7 linked regions of the Homo sapiens genome follow. The protein of the gene in region 4 purifies or fractionates together with the protein of the main gene of each other region. This does not show direct contact. Each region holds a gene or a part of one and is shown on either strand. Other genes may lie near its edges.

The links.
Region 1: the proteins of FERMT2 (region 4) and UBFD1 fractionate together in Homo sapiens (co-fractionation; one large-scale study listed by BioGRID). This does not show direct contact.
Region 2: the proteins of FERMT2 (region 4) and BBS12 purify together in Homo sapiens (affinity purification with mass spectrometry; one large-scale study listed by BioGRID and IntAct). This does not show direct contact.
Region 3: the proteins of FERMT2 (region 4) and SERGEF fractionate together in Homo sapiens (co-fractionation; one large-scale study listed by BioGRID). This does not show direct contact.
Region 5: the proteins of FERMT2 (region 4) and ISOC1 fractionate together in Homo sapiens (co-fractionation; one large-scale study listed by BioGRID). This does not show direct contact.
Region 6: the proteins of FERMT2 (region 4) and PDCD10 fractionate together in Homo sapiens (co-fractionation; one large-scale study listed by BioGRID). This does not show direct contact.
Region 7: the proteins of FERMT2 (region 4) and NAA50 fractionate together in Homo sapiens (co-fractionation; one large-scale study listed by BioGRID). This does not show direct contact.

Annotation. Positions count from the first base shown.
Region 1 is NC_000016.10:23,560,727-23,564,226, reverse strand, and holds part of UBFD1 (ubiquitin domain-containing protein UBFD1), read right to left. Parts: intron 2,022-3,500; coding exon 1,956-2,021; intron 1,603-1,955; coding exon 1,497-1,602; intron 189-1,496; coding exon of another isoform or gene 118-188; intron 1-117. UniProt on the Homo sapiens protein: May play a role as NF-kappa-B regulator.
Region 2 is NC_000004.12:122,742,704-122,745,439, reverse strand, and holds the end of BBS12 (chaperonin-containing T-complex member BBS12), read right to left. Parts: coding exon 1,415-2,736; 3' UTR 501-1,414; downstream 1-500. UniProt on the Homo sapiens protein: Component of the chaperonin-containing T-complex (TRiC), a molecular chaperone complex that assists the folding of proteins upon ATP hydrolysis.
Region 3 is NC_000011.10:18,010,248-18,014,327, reverse strand, and holds the start of SERGEF (secretion-regulating guanine nucleotide exchange factor), read left to right. Parts: upstream 1-1,280; 5' UTR 1,281-1,317; coding exon 1,318-1,377; intron 1,378-4,080. UniProt on the Homo sapiens protein: Probable guanine nucleotide exchange factor (GEF), which may be involved in the secretion process.
Region 4 is NC_000014.9:52,944,551-52,948,050, reverse strand, and holds part of FERMT2 (fermitin family homolog 2), read left to right. Parts: intron 1-3,500. UniProt on the Homo sapiens protein: Scaffolding protein that enhances integrin activation mediated by TLN1 and/or TLN2, but activates integrins only weakly by itself. Binds to membranes enriched in phosphoinositides.
Region 5 is NC_000005.10:129,108,249-129,111,748, reverse strand, and holds part of ISOC1 (isochorismatase domain-containing protein 1), read right to left. Parts: intron 1-3,500.
Region 6 is NC_000003.12:167,689,893-167,693,392, reverse strand, and holds part of PDCD10 (programmed cell death protein 10), read left to right. Parts: intron 1-3,500. UniProt on the Homo sapiens protein: Promotes cell proliferation. Modulates apoptotic pathways. Increases mitogen-activated protein kinase activity and STK26 activity. Important for cell migration, and for normal structure and assembly of the Golgi complex.
Region 7 is NC_000003.12:113,725,750-113,729,249, reverse strand, and holds part of NAA50 (N-alpha-acetyltransferase 50), read left to right. Parts: intron 1-3,500. UniProt on the Homo sapiens protein: N-alpha-acetyltransferase that acetylates the N-terminus of proteins that retain their initiating methionine. Has a broad substrate specificity: able to acetylate the initiator methionine of most peptides, except for those with a proline in second position.

The sequences.
Region 1 (3,500 bases), on a different chromosome or scaffold from region 4:
CCAATTATTCTCCATAAAACTTGGTCCCATTTTAAGTGGAGTCTCACTAAATGGTCTGTCCCTGAAACCAGTGAACGTCAGATGATGGGACCCCCTATACTTCTCTTTAGCATTTACCTCGAACACTGAATACCTACAGTGCTGGTCAGAAACAGGTGATTTAGGCATGTTCGGTTCCCTCCAGGAATCTAACAGGGGGACAGACAAGTCAGAGAGTAATGAGTGCTCTGGGGATATAAACGAAGCGCTCTATGAACAGAAGCGGCAGCAAGTCATTTGGAGGGTGGGGGGAGAATCAAGGAAGGCTTCATTCAGAGAGGACATTTAAGTAGGGCCTTGGAAGATTTTATTAATAACAAGGAATGGGAAAAAGGCATTCCAGGTAAGGGCACAGCATGAGCAAAGACAAGGAGCTGTGCAAAGCACACTGGGAGCTTCACAGAGAGATGCGGCTAAAATACACAGGGGACCACAGGGCAAACGGGCCAGAAGCTGGAACCAAAATTTAAACTAAGGCCCAGTGTTGAGAACACTGAACGCTATGGTTAGGCATTTGAATGTGTCCTTAAACAGCCAAAGGTCCTTGAGCACGGGTACCCAGGATAAAAAGCAGTAGGTAAGATGGACAGGACAGAAGAAAACACAGATGGGGCAGTGAAACAGGGTAACTCGCTTTGAACAGACCAAGTTTAAAGATGCTTGGGAACTTTAACTGGCACAACAGTGTGGCAAAGAAAGGGACAGACAGTTCTGCAGTGTAACTAACAAGACTTTGTAACCATCTGGGGGAAGGGAGAGGGAGGACAGTCAGAGACACTTCCCAGCAAACAGCAAGGCTGATCCAGACACCGTGCACAGGCGGGGGTGGGGCAGGCAGAGGGCAACCAGGCGGGGAGGGAGAGGCAGATTCCTCGGCAGCGGTTAGGAAAACTTCACCTACTATAGGGTCAAACTCTGACCTACAGGGGCCAGGCAGGTGACAAATGAACAAAGCTGGCTACTTCTAAGATAAATGGGACCATGAAGACTGTAGTATGGCCCACTGGAAACCACCACTCGGCTCTAGTGGATCGATGCCATGTGAGAATGCAGGCCCCAAAGGGCCAGATCATTTGAGTTTTCAAGAGAAGCCAAAAAAAAAAAAAAAATCAGATTAGTGAAATCTCCCAATTTTTACAGATTGTGTGTCATCCCACAAAACATTTTTCTGTGGACCAGATTTGGCCCTTGGGCCACGTGTTTGGGACCCCCAAATCTGTGTGCAACTGAAGAGCCACTGTTTGGTGGATCAGCCCTAAGATCAGACTGAAAACAATGAGGGAAAACGGTCCAAACAAAAGGCGAGCATCTAAAAGCAAATTTAAAAGCCAGAAGCAAGCAAAGCACAGTGGAGAGAGAGGTTTCAGAAGGAGGGGTGAAATCGCACTCTAAAATGTGAGTGCTGCTGGGTGCCAGAGGCAGGCAGTGGGCCAGCAAGGAGGCGAGGAAGAACATACCTTTAGTGCCAATCCACAGCTGGTCTTGTTCTAGTTTAAAGGTGAGTCTCACTTTTCCTCCAGATTTATTGTACATGCCGGACAGCGGTACCGTTGGCAGGCGCTCCTGAAGGCACGAGAGAATGGTAAGAGATGGAGGGACAGTCAGAAAAAAAGAGAAGGGGGCCAAGCGCGGTGGCTCACGCCTGTAATCCCAGCACACTGGGAGGCCAAAGCGGTCAGATCACCTGAGGTCAGGAGTTGGAGACTAGCCTGGGCAACATGGTAAAACCCCGTCTCTACTAAAAATACAAAAATTAGCCAGGTGTGGTGGCACACCCCAGCCTGGGTGACAGAGCAAGACTCTGTCTCAAAAAAAAAAAAACAGGGAAAAAAGAGAAGGGACAGGATTGGAGGAACCTCAAGTCAGACGGTGGGGCTGCCTCATTTTCAGAATGCTCACAAAGAAATCCGCCTTACCTGGGCCCCCTTAACAGATGGCATCACATCTTCAGGTTTTCCTTTATCCAACACTTTCCTGTGTTGCTATAAGTCAGAAGAGAGAATGAAATGAAACAGCTGACTACATTTCGTCGTGTTACTATTCCCTTGAAAGAGAGGATGAAGAAAGCCTTAGTGTTTTGGCTCAAAAGCTTTTAATGACGACAGACTATGGATCCTTTGAAACTATAGCACAGTGCTGTCCAGCAGAACTTTCTGGGAGGGCGAATATGTTCGTACCTGTGCTAGCCACTACCTACTGCTGTGACTATTACACACTTGAAATGCAGCTACTATGACTGAGGAACTGAATTCTTAATTTCATTTTAACCAGCCACATGTGGATAGCTACCATATTAGATATCAAAGTTCTACAGCAAACGGGATTTCCAGATTGCCCTCCTCCCCTCAAAAAAAAAAAAAAAAATCACCACTGAAATGATTAAACCATCAAACTAAAGAGGGCGACAAAGGGTGTTGCTCTCCTAGCAGACAAAAAATGGCACCCACCTTTTTCAACTTAAACTTCCAGAGAACACTATAAGATGCTGGTAATCCGTCTAACTGCCTAGGAGGAGCAGTTCTTCAACAAATGGAGACCCAGCCCATCGCCGAAGTTTTCCCCACTGCCCTACCCTTAACTCCAGCTAAACAGGAACCTGGAAGAGCCACCTTTCAGAAAGAAATGCTTATTACTCTATAACCTGACATTAAGAAGCCTCTAAACTCCACCCCTACCACCTGCCCCAAGAACTCTGAGGCAGCTCTTCAAGGATTCTAAGTTCAGGGCCCCTTAAACAGTTCTCCTGCCTGGCCCAAATGCCTGAGTCTTCTTTCTTCTCCATCTGTGGCCTTATAGGCATAGCCACTGCTTGGAAGGCTGGAACTAGGGGACAATGAATGGATAGAAGGTAACAATTTAATCAAATGTAAGCACTAGGCAGCCACAAGCCAGCCCAAATCCTCACTGGCATGGTGGAATCCCTCTGGGAGGAATAAACTCAGCACTGCCAGACTGCTAGCAAAAAGTCACTCCAGACATCACCCCCAGACCCCTTAATAAGCTGGTAAAAAGGCAAGGGACTATATCCCTCTCATTAGGTCATGTGATGCATCATAATTGGCCTCAATGAAACACAGCAGCATGGGCTGGAAGTACAATTCGAGTCACACCTTTCAAGTACCTTTTGAACAAGATTTCCTGTACTGTGGAGAACAGTTCTAAGCCTGTTAAGCTACCATTAGTAACTAAAAACCTGTATTTAGGAGGCATGTTATGCTCCAAGGGTGTGACCATTGCGACCACTCCTATCTGACGTGCTCACATTTCACTATTTCATACATGTGGCAAAGAAAAACAGGAATATGAGAAGAAACTCAATCGGTTTCAAGACACTGAGACCCCATATGTGGGGGTGAAGTCTCCAAATCAACACCTTTTAGATAATTAATATAGGTTTATAACCCCTTATCTGAAACCCTAGAGTTTTGAACTTTCAGGGTTTTGGAATTTTTATAAAGATA
Region 2 (2,736 bases), on a different chromosome or scaffold from region 4:
GTTTTTTGAGACTGGAGAGATTTACAGCACTCAATTCCTTTGGCAATGAAACAAATAAATGCTGTCTCTTTGGCCTCACCAGCAAAAAGGAGGCTCAACACCTTACTAAGACTCTACCAGTATAGGAGGCAGTACATGATGCCATCATGGGTGGCTCCCATATGTGAACATGTAGAAACACAGGGACCAGCACAACCTTGTTTCATTCTGATTGAACTTATGCTTCTCTAAATTTGTCAGAGTGGCCTTGGATTATACCATGTATAGCAACCGAGGCTGCAACTACTCAGTGACACTACTTATGTGACTGAAATCCACATATGATGATTTAAATCAGATTTGACAATACTTCTGAACTAGAGTAACCTGGACCCTTTGGGCTTATGTACTTGTATGTGGGGAAAATAAGCCATAGAAGGGCTCTCCATAGGGAACAGGTTTGTTTTTTGGCCCAGCTATTGCACCCATAATTATTGATAATAACACCACATATCAGTACGTCAGTCAAAGCTCCCTTTATTGGGTCATAAAGTATAATAAATTGTCCTTCACTACATTCTGGCTGCCTAATAAAAAGACCTATTGGTCCTCCCTTGGAACTTAGAGTTGATTGAGTCAAGACCTTGGGGGACAGGACTGAGGTTAATACTGCAGGTTGGCTTCATCCTGCTGCTGTGTCTGATAATAGCCTGCATTAATTGCTATATGAGACCAAATGAACAAATTTGGTACTGACTAAACAACCCGACTGTCAGGTTAATCAGAGTAGCTGATAGAGTGGCATACTCATGTGAAAATTCAAGTTTGGCCAAGAACATCTCAGGCTGAGGAGCAGACTGTTGGAAGAGACTATCCACTATGGGCTCTGAGTGTCCCTGCATACTTACTGGGTATGTCAAGAATGCAAGGACTTTGTCTTTACCTAGTCCATGTCCTAGGCTTGTGTTTACACTAAGCTATCTTCAAGTATGGGGTAATAACTCCCTTTGGACAAAGACCAGGATTTTTTTGCTTACTATAAAAGCAGTTAATAACCCAAGCTTACAACATAACCCACTGTGTGCAGGCTTTCATCATGGGCCCTTTGTGTTCCTCCTGTGGGAACTAGAAAAATGAGGAACTGAATAAAACCAACATGAAGCTCTGGCTACAGCTTTTGCTGTGAGCGATAAGTCCTTTGTTTCTGACCCAGGTGTCTTATGCATTCTGTAGCATCCCACGAAACAGTAACAGGCTAACTTGTTAGCTTATAAGTAGGGTAAAATCTCAGACCATGCACAGTTATTGACAGACATCAACTATTTTCTTCTTGGCAATAGCTGGCATTTTAGGCACCATGACTTGGCTATCAATATATTTATTATTAGCATGACATATTATGAAAAATTATTTTCCAAAGACTTAGCCAGTAACACTACAAAAATAGAAAGCCCGTTAATTCCTGTGAATTTATCTGTGTGTGTCCATGTCCAGTAATTATTTCACTGTCTGTCTGAAGTACTAACAATACTAAATCCAATGCTCGGCGCCACGCCTCAATCTTTGGTGTAACAACGTCATAAACTCTCGGAATCTGCTCCAGTTTATTTGAAATGTCTGAATTAAAAATTCTACTATTTAGTTTACTATATTCATTCAAGATGTAAGATGAAGGAGAGCCAGAGTCTGTGGCATTTTGCAGATGATGTTGAATGTATGTGCTGGCTTCAAATTCTGATGAGTAATTGGCAGTGTTATATAGGAGAGTTGAAAGGTATTTCTGCCATCCATTTGCCAGGAATTTAAGCACAGTTGGTCTGTATATTGCCAGAGATGAAGCCAGCCAAGAGGAAGTATTATGCAGCCACCCTGAGCAGGCATGGTTTTCTTTTTTCAGAGATTGCTCTGCAAGAATATGAAGACAGCTAAGACACAAAAATTCAACTGCACCACCTCCAAGGAAGACCTTTTCCTCTTTTAGAGCATAATACAAACGATAGGCACATGTCCAGAACCTATCTTCTTTGATTTGCATCTGTGCAGTAACTGGGTTAGTGAGCACGGCCGTAACCAAATTAATTCCTTCTGTTTTTAATAAGATTGCGATTCTGTTGTTCCTATCTACAACATCCAAAGGGCTGCTTCTCCAGAAGGTCACGCAGACCCCGTCGCCCACACAATCTTCATTCACTTGTGTAATGTAGGCCACCTGTACTGCTCCTGCAGCCTCTGCAAAAGCCTGCATCACACTGCCATTCACTGAGCCGATTACCAACCGCTTACTGTTTATACATTTTTCAATTAAGCGTTCGGACACATTTCCTTGTACCAGGACAAGGTTCACCTTGAACTGGATTAACACCTGTAACACGTGATTTGCCCACAGTTCTTCTGAGCTGTCTTCTTGAAGCCGCATGCTATCTAATACTGTTTTAATATTTGCAGACTTATTAAATCCCAGGTGGCGGTAATTCTCTGTGAGGTCACCCTCAATGAGAACTATTCGCACAGGCTGATTCTGCAATTCCTTGATCACAGGATTATTAGATACTGACACAACAGTGATATATCCTGGACAAACACAAGAAGAAGTTTCAGGTAAGCCTGGTAGACAGCAAGTGAAAATTCTTGAAATGTCAAACATAAATGGTTTTGTACAGTTGCCTTGTTGCACACAAGCATTCTGATATTGCAGCTGTACTGCTTCTTCTACTAACTTCATGCTGCTGTGATCTCCATGACTCAAGCCTACTGCCA
Region 3 (4,080 bases), on a different chromosome or scaffold from region 4:
TGTTGCTCAGCCAAAACTGAGCGGTGAAGGATCCCATTTTTACATCCTGTTACACATGCTTCAAAGAAATGGTCAGCACAAAAAAGCCCACTCATAAGACAGTCAGTAAGCATGGTATAGCTCCTGCACATTCAGATCCCTAGAGAATGAAGAGCTGTTTTATCTCTCCAAAGTTTGCTTTTTTCTTGGTATGGTCATCGACGTTCTCCAGATGCCACAGGTTGGAGAGATAAAGGTGAGGGGCTGCCCTCAAGTGGTCTTACAGGCAGAAACTCCTAAAAGTGGATGGAGTGAAAGAACAGGAAAGGACAGTGTAAGAGCTCATTGGAGACACTTCCCAGAAGCCCAGGGGTGAAGGGCAGTGAGTGCTGGAGGCCCGTGTCAGCAGAGGGGCCAAGTGCTACCGAATGTGAATGTGGATGATCATCTTTAATGTGACCCTATGTGTTCTGTATTCCCGGTACGCGGTGCCATATTTTCCTTCAGATAAATTGAACTTAATTAACTCCCATCAGCAACACGACGCTGTCTGAGAAAAGCCATTTTATATGGAAATGTTCGTTGGGTGACGATTATCCAGTATTATTAATAGAATGAGCTCAGGGCCGTGCCCGGAGCGCCGAGGCTGCCCCGGCAGGAGTCGACGCTAACCAGCCTCCCCCATTCAGCGTCGCGAGGCGCGGGTTCCCGCTCCGTGCCAGGTGCAGAGGGCGACACCGGCGACGTGCCACTCCACTCGCCTCCCAAGGCGCCCCCTCAGATGTTTGCGAACGCACACCAAAGCGGGCTCAAGACAATTGCGCCTGAGACGCCGGGCAGGACCCTGCCCTACCCCTCAGGCTCCATTTCCTGTTCCCGCAAATGGTGATGCCATCGCTGCCCTGTCAGCCCCTCTGGGCTGTCGTGGGCCTCCAAGGAGACAAAAACGCGAAGGAGCTTTGTGAACTGTGGCGCGCAGTGCACCTGCATGAAACATGAAATTATGACTAAAAATAAAGAGTACGAGGGGGTAGGAGCGAGAGGCTGAGAGGCCCAGCGAGACAGGAGGCTGCGGGCGGAGACGCTGCGAGCGCCGCCGGGGCGGGCTGACTGGGAGGCGGCTCCGGGGCTGTCGTCCGGCCCCGCCCACCACTGATCCCCAGTGGCCCGAGGGCCCGGCCGCACCCTCTCTCCCGGCCTGCGGGCCGCTTCCCACCACAGACCCCGCCCCGCGCCCTACCCATCACGCGTCCCCGGTCCGGCTCCGGCGCTCACCTACCCCCGGCAGGCGCCGCCCCCGTGCCGTCCCTCCCGGAAGCGCCGGCGGAGCGTCCTCGCATGGAGCGCGAGCCCAGCGCCTCGGAGGCCGCCCCCGCGGCGGCCGCGCTCTTCGCCTGGGTACGTGACTCCGCCCCCGGGCCGGTGCAGGCCCTGAGGGGCGCCGAGATGTGGGAGCTGCTGGCCGCGGCGTGGGCAGTTCAGGGGCTGGGCGGCTGAGGTCCGAGCCGGGCTCTGGGTTGAAGGATCCTGGGCTGGGAGCGGAGGGGGAGCGGAGGAGGAGCGGGCGGGCGGGGAAGGAAGGGTCTTCGCGGTCGACTTAGGGGCCTGCCGGCTGGCGGGGTCAGGGCCGGAGGGGCTGTGGCGCCGCGGGAAGAACCTGCCTCGGGGCAGAGCGTCTGGTTCCGCGAGAGCCCTCCAGCCCGAATAGCGCCTGGAAGACAGCGCGGAGGGCTCGGTGGAGAGGATCGCCCGGTCCCAGAGCTCCGTGGGGCCACCTGTGCCCCCCACACTCCTGATGCCTGGAGGAGGGAGACCCTGTCCCAGCCTGGCGAAAGCATCCTTTAGATGTGAGGCCTGCGGTGTTTGGCCGCGCACAAGGCACAGACCCTGCCTATTTGCTGACACTCTGCTGTGACCGGTTCTTGCATGTGTTGGGGGAGTTGGGCTGCTGTTGGTTTGACGGGAGCATTGGGAGAGACAGGGTCATCTTGATGTGTGTCTGGGAGAGAGGAGGGTTCATGCACAGGAGCGTGGCAGGTGGCCGACCAGCATGCACGGGAACAAGCAGTCGCTGCGTCTTGTGCTTCTTCATAGCACGTATCACAATTGTAATGATGTGTATAATTTATTATTAACGTCAGTCTCTCTGGCTGGAAAGTAAGTGTGGTAAGAGTGGGTGCTGTGCCTGTCTTGTTCACGGTGCCTCTCTTGGTGTCTGGCACATTGTAGGTCCCCAGTAAATACTCGTTGACGAATGAATGAACGAGCATCTGTGTGCCTACCCATGTGCTGGTGTTGGGGAAATACACATGAGTGAAATACACGAGTGAAGGACTTCCAGCTCTTGTGTTGGGGGAGAGCAAAATTATAACCTGTATTGCTGTTAAAATCAGTATTAGTTGTCCAATTTTTAAAGAAGTAATGATCAGTACAAGGCGGCAATTGTTGAATGTGGGGCTGCAATTTGGCAGGAGGGAGAGCATGGCGTGACCTGCGGTAGTCTGGCTGGCTGGGCGTCTTTGAGGTGGCCCGGGAGCTGGGGGTGGAGTTGGGGATTGAATGTGTGCTGTCTCTGGCTTTTTCCAGGCAGGAGACTGGCGTCTGTGTGGACAGAGGAAACAGAAATATTGTTTCAGTACAGACAAAGCCGAATATTAAAGGTTGTAAAATATGTTTAATAGGTTGTTGACACCCTTCTGCTGTGTTTGGAGGACTGGTAGTGTGTTTTTCCTGCTGTATAATCTGAAACTGTGGGGGTGTGTTGGTCGGCTAGGGCTACCATAACAAAATACCACACAACAGAGGCTTAAACAACAGAAATTTATTTTCTCACAGTTCCAGAGGCTAGAAGGCCAAGATCAAGGTGTGAGTAGGTTTGGTTTCTCCCGAGGCCTCTCTCTGGCTTGCAGATGGCCGCCTTCTCACTGTGTCCTCACATGGCTTTTTTCACTGTGTCCTCACATGGCCTTTTCTGTGTGCGTGAGCATCCGTGGTGTCTCTTCTTTTAAGGACACCAGTCATATTGGATTAGGGCCCCACCCTTATGACCTCATTTAACCTTAATTGCCCCTTTAAAGGCCTTCTTTCCAAATACAGTAAGGTACTAAAGGTTAGGGCTTCAACACGTGAATTTTGGGGGAATAAAGTTCGGTTCACAGGAAGGGGATTTACCTTGTTAGGGGTGTGTGTGTGTGTGTGTGTGTGTGTGTGTATGTGTGCATGTGCACGTGTGATATGTCTGGAGTGTTTGTGAGGAAGAAAGGCAAACAACAGTTGTAATAGGTTGTGTTAAATTTCCCTTCGTCTTGCTTTATCCTGGATTTAGGGCCTCTCACAGTGTTACAAAAATTGGTACCGTAATTTGAACCTCAGAGTGCCCATGTGTCATGTTACTTTTCTCCCAGGTGTTCAGCAGCCTTGCACCCCTGGTAATGGGACAGCCACGGAGATCTCAGGGCTGACCAAGAAATCCTGTGCATATATGCTCTATATTCCCCTTCATGCTGAGCAAGTCTTTCATAGGGTCTTACATTCATTCGCCATATAAATATATGTACATCTTCTTTGGGCCAGCACAGTTTCAGATGCAGGGGAAACAGCAGTGAGCAAAGCAGAGTTCCTGCCCTCCTGGAGTTTAGTTTCTGGCAGGGGTGGTGTACAGTAAACAAGTAGTCATATATAATGTAACATCAAGAAGTGGCATGAAGAAAAATAAAGCAGAAAATGAGTGATATGGGGATGCTCTTTTAGATAAAGTCATACAGTTAACCACCTGTCAGGTAAGCTCTGGGCTGCTTCACTGTATGTCCTTTTTTTATTTTTTCTAAGAGACACAGTAAGGTATAGTAAAAGGTGCAGGGCATCAGACTTTTTGCCTACCCAGATATAACTATGGAAAGTTACTTAACCTCTCTGAGCCTTAGTTTCTTCCTCTGTGAAATGGGAGTAATAATGTCCTTCTTAGTTGTTGTGAGGATTAAAGGTGAATGCACAGTATGGAGAGAAGCACTCAGTAATTGGTAGCTAATATTGCCCCCTGTGGGCTTCTGGGACTTATGCCCCTGCTATGGCTTACTCTTCCATCTTTGAGTCCTTGCAGCC
Region 4 (3,500 bases):
CTTGAAGCAGTTATGAACAGAAGACACCAGAGCATTCACTTACATTTTCAAACTCCAGACTGTCTGATATCCTTCTTAATCTGTTGGACGGTATATGAATACCAAAAGCATTATATTTTAAGGTGATTTTCCCAGATAATGTTCAGTAGCAGCAATTATTTCCCTGAAGTCGATAGATCTCAGGATGACCTATTCCCTCAACATTGTATTAAAATTGTGTGTGTGCACATGTGGAAGTTTCTAGGAAGAGGCTTCTTCACTTTAATTTCTCAAAGAGGTCTGTAACAAAAGAAGTCATGACACAATTTTATGGTTTGGCCCTTGTGTGTCAGGTTCATCTTGAAGCTAGGGTTCATCCCAGAGTGCGGCATTTTAATTAAGCACGACATAAGTGTAAATAATGTTTCCTTAATATGTGTCAGTAATATCTTTGTGTTTAGTTAGACTTTTATTATAAATAACGTGTACACTTTGCTTAAGGCCATTAAAACACAATTTTTAGAATTTTGACTTTAATTCAAAGATCTGAAAAGTCTCATTTATTTATTTATTTATTTATTTTTTACTTTTTGAGACGGGAGTCTCACTCTGTCGCCCAGACTGGAGTGCAGTAGCGCGATCCCGGCTCACTGCAAGCTCCGCCTCCTGGGTTCACGCCATTCTCCTGCCTCAGCCTCCCGAGTAGCTGGGACTACAGACACCCGCCACCATGCCTGGCTAATTATTTGTGTTTTTAGTAGAGACGGGGTTTCACCGTGTTAACCGGGATGGTCTTGATCTCCTAACCTCGTCATCCGCCTGCCTTGGCCTCCCAAAGTGTTGAGATTGCAGACGTGAGCCACCACGCCCATCCTAGGTCTCTTTTAAATCTCAGTATAAAACACATTTGTCATTTGCTATTAATCTTTTAAAAGAAAGCAAAAGCATATGTCATGAAGTGGGCTTTGGGGAATTATATCGTAATGTGACAAAGTTTTTGCATTTGTGACTTAGTCTAGGCTGATACTTCATAAATAATTGATCCCCTCAGTGTTTATACTTCATCCAGAAAGTGAAAAACACCCTAAAATCCAGTTTAGGTTGGGTACGGTGGCTCACATCTGTAATCCCAGCAGGCAGGGAGGCTGAGGCAGGTGGATCACCTGAGGTCAGGACTTCGAGACCAGCCTGACCAACATGGAGAAACCCCATCTCTACTAAAAATACAAAAATTAGCTGGATGTGGTGGCATGTGCCTGGAATCTCAGCTGCTTGGGAGGCTGAGGCAGGAGAATCACTTGAACCTGGGAGGCGGAGGTTGCAGTGAGCCAAAATCACACCACCCAGCCTAAGCGACAGAGCAAGACTCCGCCTCAAAAAAAAAAAGAATTGTGAAAATTTAGTACTGTTTGGTTTGGTTTGAGGCAAGGTCTTGCACTGTCACCCAGGCTGGAGTGAGTGTGTGTTCATGGCTCTTTGCATCCTCAAACTTCTGGGCTCAAGTAATCCTCTTGCCTTAGCTTCCTGAGTAGCTGGAACTACAGGCACGCACCACCACATCTTGCTGACTTTTAAAATTTTTCGTAGAGATGGGTCTTGCTTTGTTGCCCAGGCTGGTCTTGAACTCCTGGCCTCAAGCAGTCCTTCCACCTTGGCCTCCCAAAGTGTTGGGATTACAGATGTGAGCTGCCATGCCTGTTTTTTTTTTTTTAATCAAAGACAAATTTCAAACGTGTATAGTGTTTTTTAAAAGAAAAATTTTAAATATGAAATATCAGGGATAAGGATTATAAAAACAAGACATCAAAATAAAATTGTCTTCAAAAATAAATTTTGTCAAGAAGAGGCCCAATTTTATGGGATTCCTCTGGAGGTCATTGAGAAGTATTAAATCCTTGGCTGGGCACGGTGGCTCATGCCTCTAATCCCAGCACTTTGGGAGGCCAAGGCGGGCAGATCAGAAGGTTAGGAGCTCGAGACCAGCCTGGCCAATATGGTGAAACCCCGCCTCTACTAAAAATGCAAAAATTAGCCGGGTATGGTGATGGGCACCTGTAGTCCCAGCTACTCGGGAGGCTGAGACAGGAGAATCGCTCGAACCCAGGAGGCGGAGGTTGCAATGAGCCGAGATAGTGCCACTGCACTCCAGCCTGGCAGACGCTAAATACCAAGTGGATCTGTTCACTGAGTTTTAGTATCACTTTTTAAAATGTCTTTTTAAAACTTATGTGTACAATTAAATTTCCACCTTTCTATAAAAATTCATTTTAAACGGAGAATAAGGAATTTATTATAATCTGGAGCTCACTGAATGGAAATCTCCAGCCAGCTCTGTGAGCAGAGAGGAAAAAATAGGTGATCTCTAAGTTTCCTCTAGCTCTGATTCTATGAGTAGAGAGAATGTAGAAGTTGGGTTAGATCAAGTCACACAATCTACAAGGGAAAAAAATGCAAATTGGAAGACTCAGGAGTAACTAAAAAGAAACATATGAAGTTGCTTTAGAAAGATTGAGGATTAGGCCGGGAGTGGTGGCTCACGCCTGTAATACTAGCACCTTGGGAGTCTGAGGCAGGTGGATCACCTGAGGTCAGGAGTTCTAGACCAGCCTGGCCAACATGGTGAAATCCCCGTCTCTACCAAAATTACAAAAAAAAAATTAGCCAGGCATGGTAGCGGGCGCCTGTAATCCCAGCTACTCAGGCTGAGCCAGGAGAATCGCTTGAACCTGGGAGGCGGATGTTGCAATGAGCTGAGATCACACCACTGCACTCCAGCCTGGGTGATGAGCGAGATTCCGTCCCCCCGCCCCCAACCCACAAAAAAAAAACAACAACAAAAAAACATAGAACAATTGAGGATTGGCTGGGTGCGGTAACTTACGCCTGTAATCCTAGCACTTTGGGAGGCCGAGGCTCAGAAGTTGTTTGCTTGAGCTAGGAGTTTGAGACCAGCCGGGCAACATGGTGAAATCCCGTTTCTACAGAAAAACAGAAAATACAAAAATTAGCCAGGCGTGATGGCACGCACCTGTAGTCCCAGCTACTCGGGAGGCTGAGACAGGAGGATTGCCTGAAGCTGGGAGTTTGCAGCTGCAGTGAGCTGTGATTACACCCCAGCACTCCATTCCTGGGCAACAGAGCAAGACTCTGTCTCCAAAAAAAAAAGAAAAAGAAAATCTGAGGATTATATTTCTGAACGTGGCCTTTAGAAAGAAGTCCTTGCTTTAAAAGTGTGTCATGTTCTTGCCATATAATAATGAAAAAAGTTCATTTATGTTGGAGTTGCATGTTAGGATCAAGTTAGATTGTGAACTTAGCACATGTGACCAAAAAAAGAAATAGATTTTAATAAAGTTACCACTAAAAATCCCTTAACGTGATCATTAAGTATGGTATACGTTCATTGCATCTCACAGAAGTGGAAAATAGCTAGTTTTTCCTCTAGGAACTCCAAAAATAAGTTTCATTAATTGAGCACCAGATGAAGAAACTGGCTTACATGAGGGGCTTCGTTACACAAA
Region 5 (3,500 bases), on a different chromosome or scaffold from region 4:
GAAGAGAGCAAAGAACAGAAAGTCGGGGGTAAAGGGTAGAGAGAGGAAAGGAGGAAAATAGAAGAATTCTATAGCACAGATTCATTCTCTGGATTTATGTGTTATCAGAAATCCCAGGGAAAAAAAAGACACAAACTGTTATCACAAAAAGCATATATGTAAAAAGCATGAAAGAGGAAGTGGTTGGAAACAATTCCTAGGTAAGTCAGAGGCAAAAACCCAGGAAGCCCTTGCATAGCCAAAATATCCTTGCAGAGTGTAAGTCAGTCTTCCTTCAATGGCTGTACATCAGCAGACTGAACCTTTCCACTGGCAGACTCTTTATTTTTATCCGTAATGAAGTATAAGGGAGTATAAGCCATAACCTACTTGTCAGAAAGCAAGCTTGGACCTTAATGACCAGTACAGAAAAGGGTGCAGAGCAGCTAACCAGAACTTTGCAGCAATTTTTTAAAAAAAACAAAATAAAACAAAACAAAAACAGCAGCTATTTATGGGGGGGTTGGGGGCCTGGAGTAAGGCCATAAGCTCAGACACACACCAGGGGTGAGTTATCTCTGAGTATTTTTTTAAGACTTCTGGAAGCCCTAATTTCCTCCTCCTTGCTTTATAGTCAGCTGATTAATCATATCAAAACCATTCAAAAATATGAAAAGATCGTGTGCTTGCTTCAGACAGAAAGGCAGATAATAAATATGATAAGCTGCAGTCCAGTTGTGTGAAAACAGCACTGAATGTCAAGTCATTCATGTCCAGCTCTCCCCATCACCAGCTGCCTGCCCTGCTCAGCCCTGCCTTCCTTACTGCTCACTGTTGAATCAATGGACTTGCAATGATTCAGTCTGAATCAAGGACTAAATCACAGGCTTTCAATGTCTGTGAGAGTGCTTTACACTGTATACTCCAATGTGCCAATAAAGGTTAGTTCTCGATAATCTCCCCAGTTCCTTAGTGAGACAGGAAAGATAAATCTGTTCCCAGGTCTAAGGAAGGAATCTGGTGACGCTACAAGAAGCCTGTCTACAATGCCCAGCACTCCCTAGTGCTCTACTGACCTGAGCCTAACAAGCCTCAGTGATGCTGAGACTCAGGTGGCCATAGCAGGGGCAGAGTGGGAAGTGTACATCACAGAAATACATTTTAGGAAAGTGACACCCATACACTATCACTTTGCTTCAAGATTGAAATGTGGCCAACACTGACTGGGTTTTAAAATCATCTAGCCAGGAACCTGTGTTAGGGAAAGGTGTAGCTTAGCAAATGCAATGGTTTTCAATCTGGCTCTTAGCCATTCCCACAATGCCTGCCCTTTCCCAACCAAAGAACGTGCCTGAGCAGAGAAAGAACAGCAGGAGCTTTCCAGACATACCTAGCAAGTCCCTGCCCACCATCCTGACAATGCTGGTCCCAAGTCCACTTTCTCTCCTGGCTTAAAAAGGGGCAGTTAAAACTCCAGCCATTTAATGCACACAGGTACATGTGCATTAGACTTCTGAAGTTCTCCCCTTACACTTGCAAAACTAATCCAACTAGGCCAAAGGAAAAGAAGGATTGCTCTGACCCACAAACCTAAAAAATGCATGTGCACTAAGTCATGAAAGCCTCAGAGAGGGGGGAAAAAGACTAAACCCATTAGATTTCCAAGCAACACTAAAACTCCCCGGAAGTACAAGGACATCAAGGTCAAGAGAGGATTTTATTCTCTTATTCTTCATGCACTCTACAATTGTTAATTGAAAGGAGTAATGTCTTTCAGATGACAAATACCCAGAAAACATTTCTTGAATAAAGCACATGCCACAGACCCTGGTACAGTGAAGTTTCAATAATGCAAACTATGAATCTTAAAATAATCTTAACAGGCAATATAGCTAGTCTTGGGAATTATCTTCAGTAGTTATGTTCTACAGGAATAGAGAGGAAGGGGAGAGGACCACAATGGTATTTTAACTTTCACACTTATGGAAACAAACCAGAACACTTAACATTGCCCCCTTCCTCAAATTTAGGAACAAGGTATATCGCCTCCGTATCAAATCAAGACTAAAAGGAAAAAAATCTGCAATATGGCAGGTGTTCCCTATCAATCACCACCTGACTTATCTATGATCGGTTTTCCCTTTCAACCTCAACACTTTAACCCCAGGCAATGTTGGTGCTCCAGGCCCTTCCAAATCCACCCCAGACAACAGATTCTTTCCCTCCCTTCTCAGAACTTCCAAGAACTAGTCCCTTCTGGGTCTTAGAGGTTATATACTTACACATTTCTGGTGACTAACCACGTGAAGACAACAATCAGTAACAACAAAAAAAGCAGCAGCTAACATCTGAGTATTTACTATGTCATGCACTGTCCTAACTGCTATCAATATATTATCTCATTCCATTCTCACAAAAATCCTATGATCTTGTTGCTATTATCATTTCCATTTCACCAATGAGAAATCTGAGGCATAGAGATTACACAACTTGCTCAAAGTCACAAATTTACAAAACACCAGAACCTGCCTTCAAACCCACATTATCCCCACATTGTGTGGATTCCTAATCCGAGAGATTACAGATTGCCTCTAAAAAGAATGGTTCAGATGGGAATTGTTTTTAATCTTGAGTCTTGTGCAAAGACAGAATTGCCAATCAAAATTTTGTCATTAAGTTGCCATAACAAAGACATATCTAAGAAAATATGAATGTAGGAGAAAAGTCCTTGAAAAAAGTCCTTTTTTACAAGCAAGGAAGTTTGTTTTGTGTTTTTCATTTTTTATTTCCAAAGTTCTGGACCTCAGCATTACAATAAAGGTTTATCCACAGTGGCTGAAAGAGCTGCTGGCTGAGGTGGTGAGGACCTGACAATGAAGTATTTAAACTCAGGTTACCAGGAAAACCTGAAAAGTAGGAATTGATTAACTCATGACTATAAGAATAGATTAAAGGTCTGACCGGGCACAGTGGTTCACACCTGTAATCCCAGCACCTTGGGAGGCCGAGGCAAGTAAATCACCTGAGGTCAGGAGTTCGAGACCAGCCTGGCCAACATGGCAAAACCCCATCTCTACTAAAAATACAAAAATTAGCCGGGTGCAGTGGCAGGCACCTACAATCCCAGCTACTCGGGAGGCTGAGACAGGGAGAACTGCTTGAACCCAGGAAGTGGAGGTTGCAGATGAGCCAAGATTGTGCCACTGCACTTCCAGCCTGGGCGACAAAGCAAGACTCCATCTCTCAAAAAAAAAAAAAAGAAATGGATTAAAGGTCTTTGTTGAGATTGGAAGAAGCAGCAATACTTAGTACCTAACTACCAGATAATCTAATAGCCTAATGGACTTGAAAATAGCTAAACAAAATAAATAATTTCTATTTGTAATCTCAGTATAGGATTCTGCTTCAGCAATAACAGAGAAGGGAGAGCCAATAAGGACCCTAAAACACCTGCTGTGGCCAGCTACCTGCCTGCTTCCCACCACCCTGTGGCCCTGTACTCATCCCTTCTTTCCTCTGAT
Region 6 (3,500 bases), on a different chromosome or scaffold from region 4:
TTTGCCTCAGTTGTAAGCTGGAAAGTCACTGGAATAACTTTAGAGAATAATAATGATACGTGGCTTTTTAGATTTTGCAGTACATATGTTCAGAATTATGTACAAGTTGAAATGTCTGTGTACTGATCCTCAACACAACTGATGAAATCTCAATTATGAAAGAAAAAGAAAACATTCATCTTTTGAAAATAGTATTCTTTGTCATTCACATTGAGAAATGCTATTTTAGCTTGTTTGGATACCTAGCTAGTTTGGATACTCTCTTTTGAGTCACATAAAGAGAGGAATATGTCCCATAGAAAATAATGGTTCGTGATAGGTATGCAACCCAGCTATCAAGGAATGACCCTACTCTTTGACAATAATTAAGGGCCAGGAATATAAAAAAGGCTTTTAATTGAATAGCCAAAATCTGTGTCACAAGGGACAAACACTAAGGGTTTTTTTGTTTGTTTTGTTTGTTTGTTTTGTTTTTGAGACGGAGTCTTGCTCTGTCGCCCAGGCTGGAGTGCAGTGGCGCCATCTCGGCTCACTGCAAACTCTGCCTCCCGGGTTCATGCCACTCTCCTTCCTCAGCCTCCAGCGTAGCTGGGACTACAGGCGCCCGCCACCATGCCTGGCTAATTTTTTGTATTTTTAGTAGAGATGGGGTTTCACTGTGTTAGCCAGGATGGTCTCGATCTCTTGACCTTGTGATCCGCCTGCCTTGGCCTCCCAAAGTGCTGGGATTACAGGTGTGAGCCAACACGCCTGGCCTAAGGGTTTTGTATTTTACCTTTCCTATGGGAAAGCCCCAGCTTCCTTTTCTACTTTTAATATGTGAAGGAGGAAGATAATCAACTGTTCATGGAGTTTTATTTTTAATCTGGTACAAGTTGAGCATCCCTAATTTGAATATCAAATTCTAAATGCTCCAAAATCCAAAACTTTTTGAGCACCGTGACATGACACCATAAGTGGAAAATTCCACGTCTGACCTCATGTGATGGATGGGTTGTAGTCAAAACACAATCAAAACTTTGTTGTATGCACAAAATGTATGCATATATGGATGCACTTTATGAAACATAAATGAATTTCATGTTTATACTTGGGCCTCATCCCCAGGTCTAAAGACTTCTGGTCTCAAGCATTTTGTTTAAGGGATACTCGCCCTGTATAGTTAAAGTAAACATGTTTGGCCTGTAAAAGGATAAATTGTCAGTGATCCCAAACTTAGTTGTTTAGACTATTTATTTCTAAAGTTTTGAAATAATTTGGTAAGTTTTCATTTGCTTTGATAATCGTGTACTTGTTGATGAGCCATGACACATTTCTATGAAGATTTGACATTTAAAATAATATTTGCAGCAGATTTTGCTTCAGATCATCGAAGTAGGTTTATATAATCAATGTCATCTTAATAACAATCATTTATATAGGACTTATTATATGCTAAGCACTATTTTAATCACTTTACATTTATTTACTTATCACAACAACCCAGTAACAAGTGAGGAAATTGAAGCAGGCACAGAAAATTAGGTAAGGCCACAGAACTTACCTATTAAGTGGTAGAGCTGGATTTGAACCCAGGCAATCTAATGCCAGGTGTTCACTGCTGTTTCCCAATCACAGACTTCCAATGTTGATGTAATCTGGAGATTGAAAAATAGAGTTTCTGCCATTTGAAAGAAATGTGAAAAAGGATATTTTAACATAGAATGCCAGTACGTGAGAGAGATAACAGTATTGTGGTTGAAACTGGCATAGAAATGTAGGCCCAGAGCTCTCATCCTGTCACTTTGACATCCTCTTTCCCCCTACAGAGTCCCTGAGACATCTCTGCTAAACCGTCTGTGACTCTAGGGAGCTGCGGTTTGAAAACCACATTATTAGCAGCACATTTTAGTCATAAGGAAATTGAGCTTAAGAGTCTTGTCTATAGTCATTGACAGAGGCTTTCTTTAGGGTGTTGTTTTCTTTATGAGGGAGTAATAATACTTCAGTTCTGTTTTCTAGAGTGTACTAATTTAGCACAATTGAATTAAGAGTAATGGTGGCAATGAAAATTTACTTCCTAACCATTTGAGGAGGGATAATTTGCCCTGGCAAGTTTGTTGATATGTATGTTATTTCTGAGACTAAAATTCAACCACATATGAATAGCATAGATAGGCTAAAGTATAATTATTTGTATCACTGTCATATATTGGTACATTTTCATGTATGTTCTTACCATTATTAATTGACAAATTAGTGGATAAAATTGCACTAAAATAGAAAATGATTTCTTCTTCAGGCGTTTCTCCAATATTTTACTTTCTTATATCTAAGGTAGTTATCCCCTTTATTCATTTTAGCAACATTTTTCAATAAGCATATGTCATATACATATTACACCAAGTACTATAGGTGATGCTATAGATTGTATCAAAGTACAAGTAAAAAAGAATCCTGACAGCTAATAAATATTCAGGCAATTTTGAATATATTAGCAGACCTAGATTTGAATCTGTGTTCCAACATTTAGCTATGTAACCTTGGATATAAGTTGCTTAACTTCTGTCATTTTAGTTTGTGCCTCTGAAAATGAGGGTAATGACTTGTGAGAATTGAAAGAAATGATGTACATGAAGTGCCTAGCACAGAACCTAGCATACATTCAACAGTACATGCTATAATAACATTGTGAAATGAGGATTTTCCTCCCTTTTCTCAATGGAGTTGATAAGGAAAAATGATCCAGCAAATATTTCAAAAGGCCTTTTGATCAATGAATGTGTGTGCCTGAGTACATTTGAGCTATGCAAATATGTTATAAAATTAATTTGTATTTTTTTTGAAGTCCAATACATCTCAACTAATGGAAAACTAGTGGAGACTCGTGATTTAACAGACCAAAATAAAAAAGCCAGGCATTTATTTACTGTTTGTAATCTGCATTTGCATATTCTTAGGCTAAAATTCAGCAAGGTTTATTTGTTTTAAGTTAGGAGTTTTCATGAAGGGTTCAGAATAGATTTTTTCAGAGTTTTCCAGTCTAAACCAAACTCAACATAAAGCACAGGGATTCCCTTTCATTAGTGCATTTGCATAAATGCGTATCATGCAAATTTGGGTGGCATGATTAGAAACTCTACTTTTCTATTGCAGTTTTTTGATAAGATGTATGTTTACGTTTCATCTGAAGCCTTTGCCTTTCAGTGTAATGTTTCGCAAAGCTGCGCTATTAGGTTGGTGCAAATTGCTAAGTTCCTTCTCCTTCTACTCATACTATCTGCCTCTTATCACAGAATTCATCTGCACCAAGCCGCATTCATTAGTTATGCGATATTTATTTTACCCTCAAGTTTTTTCTCAGTTCTTTATCTGGTTAATTGTCTATAGTGGTTTTTTTGTCCTGGTATTTTCTCTCGTAGGAAACAAACTCTCTGGTAGTTACTAATATAATTTAGCTTCTCTATGTGCACACCTTGGTGCCATAAATGAAAATACTTTTCTGTGTACATATGGATAAC
Region 7 (3,500 bases), on a different chromosome or scaffold from region 4:
GGGAGGCCAGGGTGGGCGAGCCTATCACTTGAGGCCATAATTTCAAGACCAGCCTGGCCAACATGGTGAAACCCCATCTCTACTAAAAATACAAAAATTAGTTAGGAGTGGTGGCACATGCTTGTAATGACAGCTGTTTAGGAGGCTGAGGCAGGAGGATTGCTTGAACCCAGGATGCGGAGGTTGCAATAAGCTGAGATTGCACCGCTACACTCCAGCCTGAGCAACAGAGGGAGACTCCGTCTCAAAAAAAAAAAAAAAGAAAAGGAAAAAAGTGTATCAAGAGTAAGCCTTTTTGAGATACCATGTGAACAAAGACTTGGAGTTAACATATACTGCAGCCAAGGATGGAGAGGCCATCAATTGACAGGAAAAACTGCAAGCAAAGCAGATTTTGGAACAAAGATTTGAAATTGTTTGCAGTATGTTCACTTTGAAGTGTCTGCTGGAGATTGCTTGGATCTAGGAATGTAGAGTTCAGGAGTGAACTATAGGCTAGAGACAGAAATTTGGAAATTGGCAGCATTAAAGCCACACAACTACAAGATTGAATGAGATCACCAAGAGAATAATTATAGAGAAGATAACCAAATGCGTCCATATACGAGGCCGTCATAAAATTGGTTCTTTTTCAGCTTCCGCATTTATACACAAGCATACTTGATGTTTTAGCCATATCAAACTGACTGATTTTCGGACTACATCACTGCTGTTTTGTTCATGTTTTATTAGACTGCATCTCTTGCCCTTCCACAGGATAAGCTAGTCGTTCTTCAAAATGTTTCCCATTGTCACCTTCATTCTAGTATTATTTTTGTACTATATGTACATACACTGTTAGTAGCACATTGTATATACCTGTCTTTCCTACCAGATGTAAACACCTTTGCATTCCAGATGCATAACACATAGATACTCAAATATTTATTGAAATATAATTGATTTATGCTTTAGGCAACTCTATTATGTTCATAAGAACTTTAGAAAAATTTAGATTGACAGAATTTTTTAAATCTCCATTAGGTTAGTTTTTTAATAGAGAATTTGGACTTTTAACTTAATTTTTTATAGGTTATTCTAACTAAAACCTTTTTGGTTGTTTACATTCAAGTAATGTTATTTTCTTGACATGTCTACATATCCCTTATGCTTATGCCTTTTTTTTTTTTTAACTCCGTGTTCCTTGCTAACTTATATTTACAAGTTGATTATAGTACTTTGATATATTTAGAAAATCCATGTCTTAAAATAATTTGGAGCTAAGTGATCAGGATTACAGAAGTATTCCATTTCAGTCAGACATATCATGTTAATGAGAGTTAAACTATATTTGAAGCTCAGTTTTGCTGACAAGGTTACATTAAGTGAACATTTTGAAATTTTTCTAGCATATTTGTTTCTTGCAAAAATCAAATTAATTTCTCAAAAACAGCTTAATTTTTCCAACAGCTACCAAACAATACTTAAATCTCAAATTTGTTTAAAGCGTGTATATACATATATATAACGCGCATAGAAAAATATTGGAAGACTATCAGCAAACTTATTTCTGGCCATATTATTGCAGGATATTTTCCCTTTCTACGTCATTTCTATGGTGTGCTTTAAAAAAAAAAAAGGCATGTATTTTTTTAATTAGTTAGGGGAAGATTAAGCTGCCTATTTCCTAATGGTTCAATATTGTTTTCTCTATTTAGGCTTTATCTGGCCACCCTAATGGAAACTTTTTTTAGTAGTTAACTTTTATTAGACTCATTGTAGCACAGTGCACTATAACCACTTTTTCTTCTTGTATGAAGTCAAGAAATACCTGGTATTATTCTTTGAAAACTGTAAGTATGCTTGAAGCCTAGTTACTACCTACAAATGATTCCTAAAGTTTTAAAAACCTCAAGTTCTTTCATTTATACTTTAGAAGCTTGACTTTGTAGGTTCTTAAGTTACTATTATTGTTGATACTTCAACTTCATAATGTAATTTTAAATCACTTTTTAAATACTAAGACTTTTTTTTAAATGAGATGCTCTAAATTAATACAAACTGTATATAAAAAAATTACTACACCCAACTTGTGGCACTATGGTAAGTTAAACAGGAGACAGTGTAGGTAAGATGTGATCCCTGTCAGCTACTGCATTTTTAAAGGATCCTATATTTTGGCCAGGCACAGTGGCTCACGCCTGTAGGCCCAGCACTTTGGTAGGCCAAGGTGGGCGGATCACTTGAGCTCAGGAACTGTAGACCAGCCTGGGCAACATGGTGAAACCCTGTCTCTACAAAAAATTCAAAAATCAGCTGGGCGTGGTGGCATGTGCCTTCCTCAGCTACTCGTTAGGCTGAGGTGGGAAGATCACTTGAGCCTGAGAAGCGGAGGCTGCTGTGACCTGTAATTATGCCTGGGCAACAGAGCAACCCTGTCTCAAAAAAAGAAAAATAAAGGATTCTATAGTTTACAGGATAACAGTATCCACAGATTTTTCTTTCTTTCTTTCTTTTTTTTTTTTTTGAGGCGGAGTCTTGCTCTCTCGCCCAGGCTGGAGTACAGTGGTGCGATCTTGGCTCACTGCAACCTCTGCCTCCTGGGTTCCAGTGATTCTTCTGCCTCAGCCTCCCGGGTAGCTGTGACTACAGGCACGTGCCACCACACCGGGCTAATTTTTGTATTTTTAGTAGAGACAGAGTTTCACCATATTGGCCAGGCTGGTCTCAAACTCTTGACCTTATGATCTGCCCACCTTGGCCTCCCAATTTTTTTTTTTTTTTATGTGAATGGTAGATAGTGGGGAAAGTGAGCCCAGTAGATTTTAGTCAGAAAAGTGTTATGAAGAGGGGGAGTTCTGTGAATGAGATGTAATCTACTTAAAGAAAACATGAATTTCATACAGGGAATTCATTATAGTTGTCAAATACTTGGGATGAGAAAAGACTATACTTAAGTGACTAGAAGTTGGAAGAGACTATAACAAGAAAATGTCTATTTTTTTATTTTTACTTTTTTAAACTTCCTATGGTGCTGAGGGGTTTTTTAAATATATAAATCTCTTACCCTTTTACTAACATGTTTGTTTATTTAATCTGTGTGGTTGCTAAGAAACTATGTTCAGATTTTAGGAAGACATACAAGACATGAAAAGATCATTGGTTGCAACAAATAATACAGATTAGTGGTATAAAAAATAATCAAGGCAGGAAGGATAAAGTTCCAAATGAGCTAAGCCTTTCAAAACTGCTAAGTATGACAGAAACGATGCTTTATGCTGTCTTTTGTGTTCTTCATACAGACTACTTAAATAGGGGGTAAAAGTCTCTTGTTTTTGCCTCTAACTCCTTACCAAGTAGAATGTTCTCCAAACTGGGCATTATAGAGTAATACATCTTAGAGAACTTTGTACTATAAGATAAAATATTACATCATATTCCTCTCCAGATAAATCAAATTTAGAAATTTCTTTTTTTATCTGTAATTATTGCTGTTTTTTGTTTTGTTTTTGAGACAGTCT